Regions from separate parts of the Homo sapiens genome. Here region 1 is linked to region 2. A link means that fine-mapping ties the variant in region 2 to the expression of a gene that starts in the linked region. Tissue or cell type: subcutaneous fat. Region 2 holds a variant in brackets; the other region holds the start of a gene. All regions are shown on one strand. Distances are between the middles of the regions.

Region 1 (5,000 bases), 58 kb before region 2:
GTTAAATAATGGTAAACAATCTAAGTAAGCATAATATTTTGTGAAATGTGAAATTGTAAACTTGTGAAATTGTATGATTCAAATTTCATTGTCTGGAACACAGCCGTGCTCATTGGTTTTCCATATGGACTTGGGCTGCTTTTTGTCCTACAACAGCGGGGTTCTGTGGCTGCAATAGACTATATGTCTAGAAAACTCTAAAGTATTTACAATCTGGCCTTTTACAGAAAAGCTCGTTGGCCCCTGTCTTGGGGGAGCATTGGTCAATCTACTAAAATGCTCTGAGTTGAGCCTGTCCTTGGCCAAGCACTGCCAGATCTCCCATCAGCTCTTCTCCCTTTAATCATATGCAAAGACCCCAAGCTGGCTAGGAGGGAGTTTCTCTCCATCCTCCCAGCCACAGGACACTCTTTTCATTCATCCCCTCGCCATTACAGTGTCTGCTGTTCTAAAGACCCAGAGACCAAGAGAGGTCTCTTGAGTGGACGTAGATGAGCACCAGTCCTAGCAGAAGAGAATTGGGGTGTGGCTCTTCCCACTTTTTAAGGCCTCTGTAAAATCACTTTTTCTGCTCAGCTACATGGGGCCAGAGGATGGGATTGAGCTGGTTTTTGGCTTCAAGATCGCTTGAGCCTCCTTGCATGTTTCACTAAACAGTCCTAAAAATGCAATGTCTGATTGGATGTCCCAAATAAAATTCATTTCAAACTTCCAGTTGTTCTGCTTCAGTCACCCCAGCCAGGACAGTTGCCCATCTCCACTTCCCCTCATACCATTTAGAAAATGAGTCAGATCTGTGAAGGAAGCATTTGCTAAGCACCCACTGTATAATGTGATGCTGGGCTGACACTCTCCAGGTGCAGAGGGGAAGATACAGCCTCTGCTGCAGTGGGACCCTGGCTGAGGGGGTCACACATCAAAACCCCACAAGAACACCCACTGGGCAAGAATCAAGAGGCATCAGCATTAGCACCATCACAGGGAACACAACCAATAACTGCATGGGACATAGGGACCCATGGAGAGAGCCGGGAGGCTCCTCAGATGAGAAAGGGCTGAGGTGAGGCATTGAAAGAGGACAGCAGACAAGGGGAGGCCAATCCTAACAAGAGGGCCAGCATCAGCTCAGGACTGGCAACAAAGCAGGAATGCGCAGAGCTTGTAAGAAGCCAGGAGAAGACTCTTGATAAGGAGCAGAAGAAAAGAATATAAGGTGGGGCTGAGCTGGGGTCCTTCAGTGCCAGACTGAACCGGCTGTCATAATAGGTGACATATTGTAATGTCCTGGAATTACAGAGAGGAGCCATGAAGTCGGGGATTTAGGAAAGGAGCCCCAGCGAGTAGGCAACCAATGTACATCAGAAATGATCAACATTCCCAATGTTGTCTACATTCACTTTTTTTTTTTTGAGATGGAGTTTCATTCTTGTTGCCCAGGCTGGAGTGCAGTGGTGTGATCTAGGCTCACTGCAACCTCTGCCTCCCAGGTTCAAGTGATTATCCTGCCTCAGCCTCCTGAGTAGCTGGGATTACAGGCATACACACCACCACGTCCAGCTAATTTTTGTATTTTTAGTAGAGATGGTTTCACCATGTTAGTCAGGCTGGTCTCGAACTCCTGACCTCAGATGATCTGCCAGCCTTGGCCTCCCAAAGTGCTGGGATTACAGGCGTGAGACACCGCACCCAGCCTACATTCAGTTTTAAGCACACACACAGGAAATTTATCTCCAGAAAACTTCGATCCACTTACCGGCCACCAGGCCATATCACGACCAGCGAGGAAGAAGCCTCCTATAGTACCTCGGTTGGTCTTCAGCATCGCCTGAGCAGAAGGGAAGACAGGTGAGGGTCAAGCCCCAGCAAGTGCACCCAGACACCCCAGAGGCTCTGGCCAGGGTGCTGAGAGGGGTGACTTCAGCACTCCTACAGAGAGAAACATTTCGCTGGAAAGTGTTCTATAGCATCAAATTTTAAAGGACTTCAAAAACAGTCGCTTTGTAAAAACCCAGGGCTGGAAGAACTTAAAAAAATCATAATCCTTAACTTCTATCTTAACTGCTCTGATTATTCTCACTTATGAAAACCATGTGAGGTATCATTGAGCCATGCTTGCAATAAAATTTGCAGTCTCGGCCGGGCACGGTGGCTCACGCCTGTAATTCCAGCACTTTGGAGGGCCGAGGCGGGTGGATCACAAGGTCAAGAGATCGAGACCATCCTGGCCAACATGGTGAAACCCCGTCTCTACTAAAAATACAAAAAGTTAGCCGGGCGTGGTGGCGCATGCCTGTAGTCCCAGCTACTTGGGAGGCTGAGGCAGGAGAATGGCGTGAACCCAGGAGGCGGAGCTTGCAGTGAGCCAAGCAAGCGCCACTGCACTCCAGCCTGGACGACAGAGCAAGACTCCGTCTCAAAAAAAAAAAAAATTTGCAGTCTCAAATTTATTAAAATAAAAAAATTCAACATAAATGAAGAGTCCAACTCACTAAATCAGAAAGTGAGCAAACAACAAAAGAAAGCGAAAGAAATGCGATAATAAAAATACACTCTTTGTCCATTATGCCAGGTGTTGGGGATGCATAGTAAATCTGAAGGTCCCGGTGCTGGCTGTGTGCACACGATGGGGTTATTAGGAGAATACATTAGTTCATTGTAAGCGTTATTTATGCAACACACAAGAAAATGATTCTGATAACACAATGACATTTGTGAAAAGCTTTGTCACAACCACACCCCTTCCCCCCTTAAGATACCCCCTCCTAAACCTTGTGCCCACCCTAAAAGCCACTGGGATTCCACCTACCCACAGCCCAACAGCCATCACCACCAGAAAATAGATGACAATGACTGAGATGTCAGCAGCATTTCGGATGTGGTCAGACAATGGAGGTGGCTCTGGGGTCTCAGCTATGGTGCTGGGGCTAACCGTACTGGCCATGGCTGCAGGCAGTGCTATACCCATTCCACGCATGAGCCATCTTTATATAAGTTCTGGGTTAATGATCAGCCTCAGGCAGGTGGGGCGAGATATCAGAGCCAGCTCCTGGATATGGAGACCTTTAAACCTCTTCTCCAAAGCTGTGGCACCCCAGCCCTCCACCAGTGAGTGCTAGCCTAGGTAGAGTGTGAGAATGAGGGATGCAGGGCCAGAAATGAGGGGAGAATTTGAGGTGGAGCATGGGGCGTTCTCTGAGTGCAAAGACAGGGTCTTTAAAGAGATTTGCCCAGGTGGAGGGGGGATTTGAGAGAAATGAAGACAGACAAGGAGGGGAGAAGGACAGACTAGAAGGTACCAGAAACCAGCCAGGAGGGACCGAATGCAATGGTCCTTCAGAGAACAGATACAGTTTCTGACCAATGAGCTATATCCCTTGACAGTGAAGTGAATTATGCCTTTCGTGGATTCCAAAGTCCCACATTTCTCTGAAGTGGGTTTCATGTGCCACAAAAAGACATTGGTGGCCTGTATAGGAAAGGAAGTGGCTCTTCAAGCACCATATGTGGTGAGTTGAGGGCAGAGCTGTGGAGAGCGCTGGGTCAGAGGGTTGTACAAAGAGTGAATCAACCTGGAAGCATGTGATGGGGATCATGAGGACTCAGGAAACAAGACTCCTGGACTACAGCCAAGAAGAAGTTAGAAGTAAAGCCTATGCGGTGGCTGACACCTGTAATCCCAGCACTTTGGGAGGCCAAGGAGAGAGCATCACTTGAGGCCAGGAGTTCAAGACCAGCTTGGGCAACATAGGGAGTCTTTGTCTCTATAAAAATTAGCTGAGTGTGGTGATGCACACGTATGGTCCCAGCTACTTGGGAGGCTGAAGAGGGAGGATCACCTGTGACTGGGAGGTCAAAGCTATAGTGAGCCATGATCACGCCGCTGCACTCTAGCCTGGGCAACTGAGCAAGATCCTGTCTCAAAAACAAACAAAAAAAACAACAACAAAAAAACAAAACCAAAAACACACATGAAAAAACGGAAAGCCCAGAAATTCTTCTTTTATACTTCATTTTTTATTGTGGCAAAGCATACATAGCATAAAATTTACCATTTTAATCCCTTTTAAGTGTACAATTCATTGGCATTAAGTACATTTACAGTGTTATGCAGCCATTACCACTATCCATTTCCAGAACTTTTTCATCATCTCCAAACAGAAGTATGTACCCACTAAAAACTAACTCCCCATCCCTCCCTCTCTCCAGGCCCTGGTAACCTCTGTTATTCTTTCTTACTATATAAATTTGCCTATTCTAGGTACCTCATACAAATGAAATCATACAATATTTTCCTCTTTGGTTTATTTCACTTAGTATGACATTTTCAAGGTTCATCCATATTGTAGCATGTATCAGAATTTCCTTCCTTTTTAAGGCTGAATAATATTCCAATACTCATATATACCACATTTTGTTTATCCATTCAACTGTTGATGGGCATTCAGGTTCTTTCTATACTTGGCTATTATAAATAATGCTGCTGAGAACACTGGTGTGCAAGGATCTGTTTGAATCCCTACTTTCAATTCTTTTGAGTCTATATGTAGAAGTGGAATTGCATGTGATAATTCTGTGTTTAACTTTTTGTAGAACTGCCAAACTGTTGTTCACAGCAGCTGCACTATTTTACATTCTTTCCACAGTGCATAGGAGAGTTAATTTCTCCATATCCTCTTCAATACTTGTCATTTATGTTTTAATTATAGACAGGCTAGTAGGTATCAAGTGGGTATCACAATATAGTTTTGATTTACACTTCTAACACAATCACTAGTAGTGTTGATTTTTTCATGTGCTTATAGCCATTTGTGCATCTTCTTGGAGAGAGATATATTCAACTTCTTCATCCATTTAAAAATTATGTTGTATTCTTTTTTACACTGCTCCTTGTGGAGCAGGACTACCTCATTGGCAGTGTACCCAGAATAGCCTTATGTTGTATTTTTGTTGCTGTTGAATTGTAGAATTTCCTTTTTATTTCTCAGAGACAGGGTCTCATT
Region 2 (5,000 bases):
TGCTCATGTCAGGGGAGAGGAAGCCATGCCTTTCTCTAATTGAGACCCCCCAGCACAGGTTCTCCCACTTTGCCTCTGCCAAGCCATATGCCTGGACACTGGCAACACTGCCTGGAGGAGACAGCTGGACCCAAAGACTGAGGCCAGGGGCCTGGGTCTTCCACAGCTGACCTGTGTGACCCTGGGCAAGCCACTTGACCCGGCTGAGTCTGTCTTCTCATCCATAAAATGGGGAGAGCCCCTTCTTCATGGGGCTGTTGAGAGGATGAAGAGCCAGGGAGAATGGAGGATGCTTTATGCCCTAGCAAGTTTGTTCTGCTTTTCCAAACGCAGGGCATTGTTTGCACAGTGTGACTCACAGTGGAGCCCAGGGCTGGGCACTCTTGCCCTCATCTCCTGCCTTCCCTCTGGGTCCCAGCCACCTGGCTTTCTTATGCTTCCTTGAAACCACCAAGCCTGTGCCTGCCACAGGGCCTTTGCACTAGCTGTTCCTTCTGCCTGGAATGCTCTTTTCCTATCTTTAACGCCCATTACTCGGTCCTGTGTGTCATTCAAATCTGGCCTTCAATCATCTGCTCAATAAGGCCTTCCCAGACCACCCCAGGTCCACGAGGGTCTCACTCACTTGTCCCTCGAACTGAGTTCCCGGCAGAACACTCGCCGCCCTTGCCACCTTCACTGTATTCCCGCCCCAGCTAGAAAGCCAGCACAGTGAGCAGGGACCTGCCTTGCTCACTGTTGTGTCTGGTGAATGGATGGGCAGTCAGTGTGAGAACACTAGGTCTGATGAAATGAGGAAACTGGGTCAGAGGACACACATGTTTATTAAGCAGGGCCTCCTGAGCTAAGAACTGGGGGAGATTTGGTATCACTAACACCCATGGAATGAGTGTGTCTACACTGGCAGCGTGGCCTTTGGAGATGTTTGTGATCATTTAGGTGATGCCATCCATCTCATAGGTGCCCCGGGGCAGGAGTGGAGGTGATTAGCTCTGTGGGTGGATGTTACGGGCATCTAGGCTTATGTGGAAGTCCCAATTCAAAGCGGGTGGATTTCTAGAACCCTCCTCTCTGGGTTTCCATAGCCTCGTTACCCTGCCCAGCAAAGATCCATGTGTCTGTGTCTCCCACCAGATGGGAGGCTCCCCAGGGGCAGAGATGAGGTCTGACTCATCTTCTGTCCCCATCACTGCCCAGCATGGGGCCTGGCGCACAGCAGGTGCTTAGCCAGAATGTGCTGAGTGGATCAGCGCTCTCGGCGGTGATGGTGGAGAACTCAGGGCGACAGCCTGTGGAGGCATCAAGGAGATGCTCCTGGCATTGTGCAGGGTGTGCCCTGGCTGGGGATCACGTCATGTCCAGGGAGTTGGAGCCTGGACTTTGGGTTCCTGCACCCCTGAGGTCAAACGAGGGGTTGGTCTCCTCCTGGCCATGTGGCGCCTGGGCACCCCCCTTCCCCACTGTGAGCTTTTTCTGCAGCTTTTTCTGCAGGGGGTTAATCATACCTGCCTCCCACGTGGTGAGAGGGAGAGTGCATGAAAACACTTAACTTGGTACCTGCCCTGTGGTCAGCCTGAGATGCGTCCCTGAGTATTTTTGTTACAGGAATGAATTCTGTAAGAACCAACCCTGACTGGCATTTTCAAATCCCCAGTGCTCCCTGAGACACAGAGGGGCTGTACCCTGTGCTTAGCAAGAAGCTTGCAGCCTGAACATTGACACGGATGAGAACCCCCAGCCAGAAGGTAACCCGCGCCCATCAGAGAACTTGAGGGGGGAAGCCCCAATAAAAACCAACCAACCAAACAAGAACACCCCAAATCACACGCGCGCGCGCACACACACACACACACACACGCACATTCAATATTCTGACACAAATAGCCCCAAGGGGCCGCTATTGGAGGGAGCAGGGGCAAGGGAAGCTTCGGTTTTCAACCACAGGTATAACTCACAGGCCTCAATCCTCCTGGCTGGAATCAGCCAGAGTTGCTTTGTCTTGGTCATCCTGAGGCCACAATGAGTCACCTCTCAGAAGCCACCAGCCCAAAACAGGACTATCGCTTGTGGACAGGTGGCTCAGAATCCCCTCCCCTGCACCCCCAGCCCCTACCCCTGAGTTTGCTCGTAATCTTAGAAGTCCGCAGAAGGGGGCTTTGGGCACAGGCAGCATTCCCTTCTCTACCACCTCGGCTGTCCCTGGCATCTCTGTAGAAGTTGTCCTTCTCGGAGGCTGCACTGGGTATTTCAGATCTCATCTCCCCCATCCTGAGGCACAGCAAAAGGGTTTTCTGGAGGAAATACAAGGAAAAAAAATATCACATGGTGTCTCCTCAATGGGGACTCACTGGGGACATTTCTCTCTGGCCTCAGTGCCAGAAGAATCCAGGTTTCCTCTGAACACATGGGTTTTGTCTTCTGAACGTTGTGAACCATGTGACTTTAAGACTGGAAGCGAGACAAAAATGTCGCTATCATTATAGCTCCATATAGTACTAGAGCTCTGGCTCATGCAATAAGGCAAGAAAAAAAAGCATAGACTAGGACTGGAATAGAAGAACCAAAATTACAGTTAA[T/C]TGTGGATAACTTACATAGAAAATTTAATAGAATCAACAGGTTAATTAGTAGAATGGAGAGTGCATACATAGAGGTATAATAGTCAACCTGTAAGACATCAGATCAATTTATAAAATGCAACAGTGTGCATTGACCTCAGCAGTTACTAGGGTAATTATATGTCATGGCTTGGGACAGTCTCAGTTGACACTTGTTGTTCTGACATAATTTTTAATGTTGTTCCCCTTTTACCCTCAAAAGTATTCTGATTTGGATGATAAATTATACTGTCACCCTTGCTATAACAAACTAAATATTAAACACAGATACAGATACCATTCATACTGACAAAAACGATCCTGTATTTTGGAATGACACTAAGATATGACCATGACCATGTCATACAAAGCTATAGAGAAGATACCAAGATGCTCCTGGAATAGGGAAGAGCCAGGAGAGCAGTGGAACAAGATCTACAGTGTGGAAACAGGTCTGCTGGGCACTTATAGCTTTGAATGGCAGAGTCAAGTTGCAAACAAGACAATGAGGAAAAGAAATACAAACTCCATCTGTGGCAGGCAGCATGAACCCCACTGCCCTGTGTCTATTACAAGAGCAATTGCCCAGCCACAACTACTTACCTTCCCAGACTCCCTTGCAAGCAGGGGTGGTCACATGACCCAGTCTGGCCAATGTCATGTAAGTGGGAGTCTATTGGGAAGGGGACATAAATCCAGGGGAAGATGAACTATCTTGCATGCATGAGAATGAAGGATGCTCACTAACACAGGTGGAGTAGAAGGCAGGGAGAAACTGGGTTCTGGTGGCAGCCCTGGACTGCCCCCTCCACACCACTGCAGTCAAATTTCCTTTACTTGCATAAATTGCAACTGGTGACAGTTCTTAACTGATAAACCATCTTCAACCAAACTACATGTTTTTTGGGCAAATGGAGAAGTCAAGGGAGTGGCTCCGACAAAGCCAGCAAAGCCCACCTCCCCAGAGTGAGAGATACGCCAAGAAGGAGAACCTACTCTCCACTCTTTGCATCAGTGGGAATGTGTACAGGGGCTAAGGGTGAGAGATTCCGTGGGGCCATCTCCTCAGCTTCACAGAACAAAGCCAGGTACTCTCCATCACCGACTTTTTTTTCTCCATAGCACACACCTCTATCCAGCATACCACCTATTGTACTTACTTGAATAATTTATTGTTTGTCTTCCCCACATAGAAAGTTAGCTACAAGAGGGTTAAGGTGATTGTGTGTTTTACACATTGCTGCATTGCCAGGGCCTAGGACAGTAACTGGCATACTGTAGGGGCTTAATAATGTTTATCAAATAAATGAATGAACCAAGAATTTAAAGCCCAATGAACCATCTTTCAAATATAAAGTCAACAGAAAAACATGTTGAACATATTTTTGAATTATAGTTCCCATGACCCCTTCTTAAAAAAATTAAGGACACCCTTAGGCAAATCAAGAATGATTCAGAAAAGTTTAATGTAAAAGGATGGGCAGATGATTTTTTTAAAAGTTCTGTGGATAGATGGCAGTGATGGCTGCTGTATTAATCCATTTTCATGCTGCTGATAAAGACATACCCAAGCAATTTACAAAAGAAAGAGGCTTAACTGGACTTACAGTTCCACATGGCTGGGGAGGCCTCACAATCATGGTGAAAGGCAAGGAGGAGCAAGTCACGTCTTATGTGGATGGTGGCAGGCAAAGGGACAGAGAGAGTGAGCGAGCTTGTGCAGGAAAATTCCCATCAGACCTCATGAAATTTATTCACTATCATGAAAACAGCATGGGAAAGACTTGCCCCCATGATTCAATTACCTCCCACTGGGTTCCTCCCATGACACATGGGAATTGTGGGAGTTACAATTCAAGATGAGCTTTGGGTACAGCCACAGCCAAACCATATCAGTTGCCCTACAGTGAGAAGGTACTTAATGCCCCTGAACTGTATACTTAAAAATGGTTAAAATGGTTATATGTTATGTGCATTCTACCACAATTCATAAAAAGGATGAGCAGAAGCATAACAAATGCAAATGAAGAGAAATCAGGGGTCAAGTTGTAAATGGAGCACTGCCAAGAGTGCCAGCAATGAGCACAGAATTTGTGTAACTGCAGGACTATTAAAGCCAATCTAAAGATTATGACCATCACAGAGAAGAATGAAACAAAACAGAACTGGCATAAATAATAAAAAGTAGGAGGGGTGGAGGTGAGAAGGAGAGAGGTAATACAAGTAAACTATGTCATATTCATATATAGTTGGAGGTCTAAATTATTGCTTAGAAGTCTAAGTAAAATTAGAGGCATCAAGGTAAACAAAAAATAATCAACTAAAATAACTTGATGGAAGGGAGACAAGAAGAGGGAAAGTAGAAATATTCTAATTTTGATATTGTTCACAGTAGGGAGAAAATAA

Evidence for each region. PIP is the estimated chance that this variant, and not a neighbour inherited with it, causes the effect.
Region 1: SLC5A4 starts here. The variant in region 2 is fine-mapped to the expression of SLC5A4 in subcutaneous fat (GTEx, PIP 0.94).

The regions. Positions count from the first base shown.
Region 1 is chr22:32,252,389-32,257,388 of GRCh38, forward strand. SLC5A4 (solute carrier family 5 member 4) reads right to left here and starts at 2,959. Exons shown (of 15, transcript NM_014227.3): 1 at 2,807-2,959; 2 at 1,754-1,825. The coding sequence starts at 2,941. The region is part of intron 2 of SLC5A4-AS1 (SLC5A4 antisense RNA 1); the gene reads left to right.
Region 2 is chr22:32,310,530-32,315,529 of GRCh38, forward strand. It overlaps a transcript of SLC5A4 not described here. Among named protein-coding and RNA genes, the nearest start is that of RFPL3, 45 kb to the right of the region's middle. The variant T/C (reference allele first, on the strand shown) is at 2,577.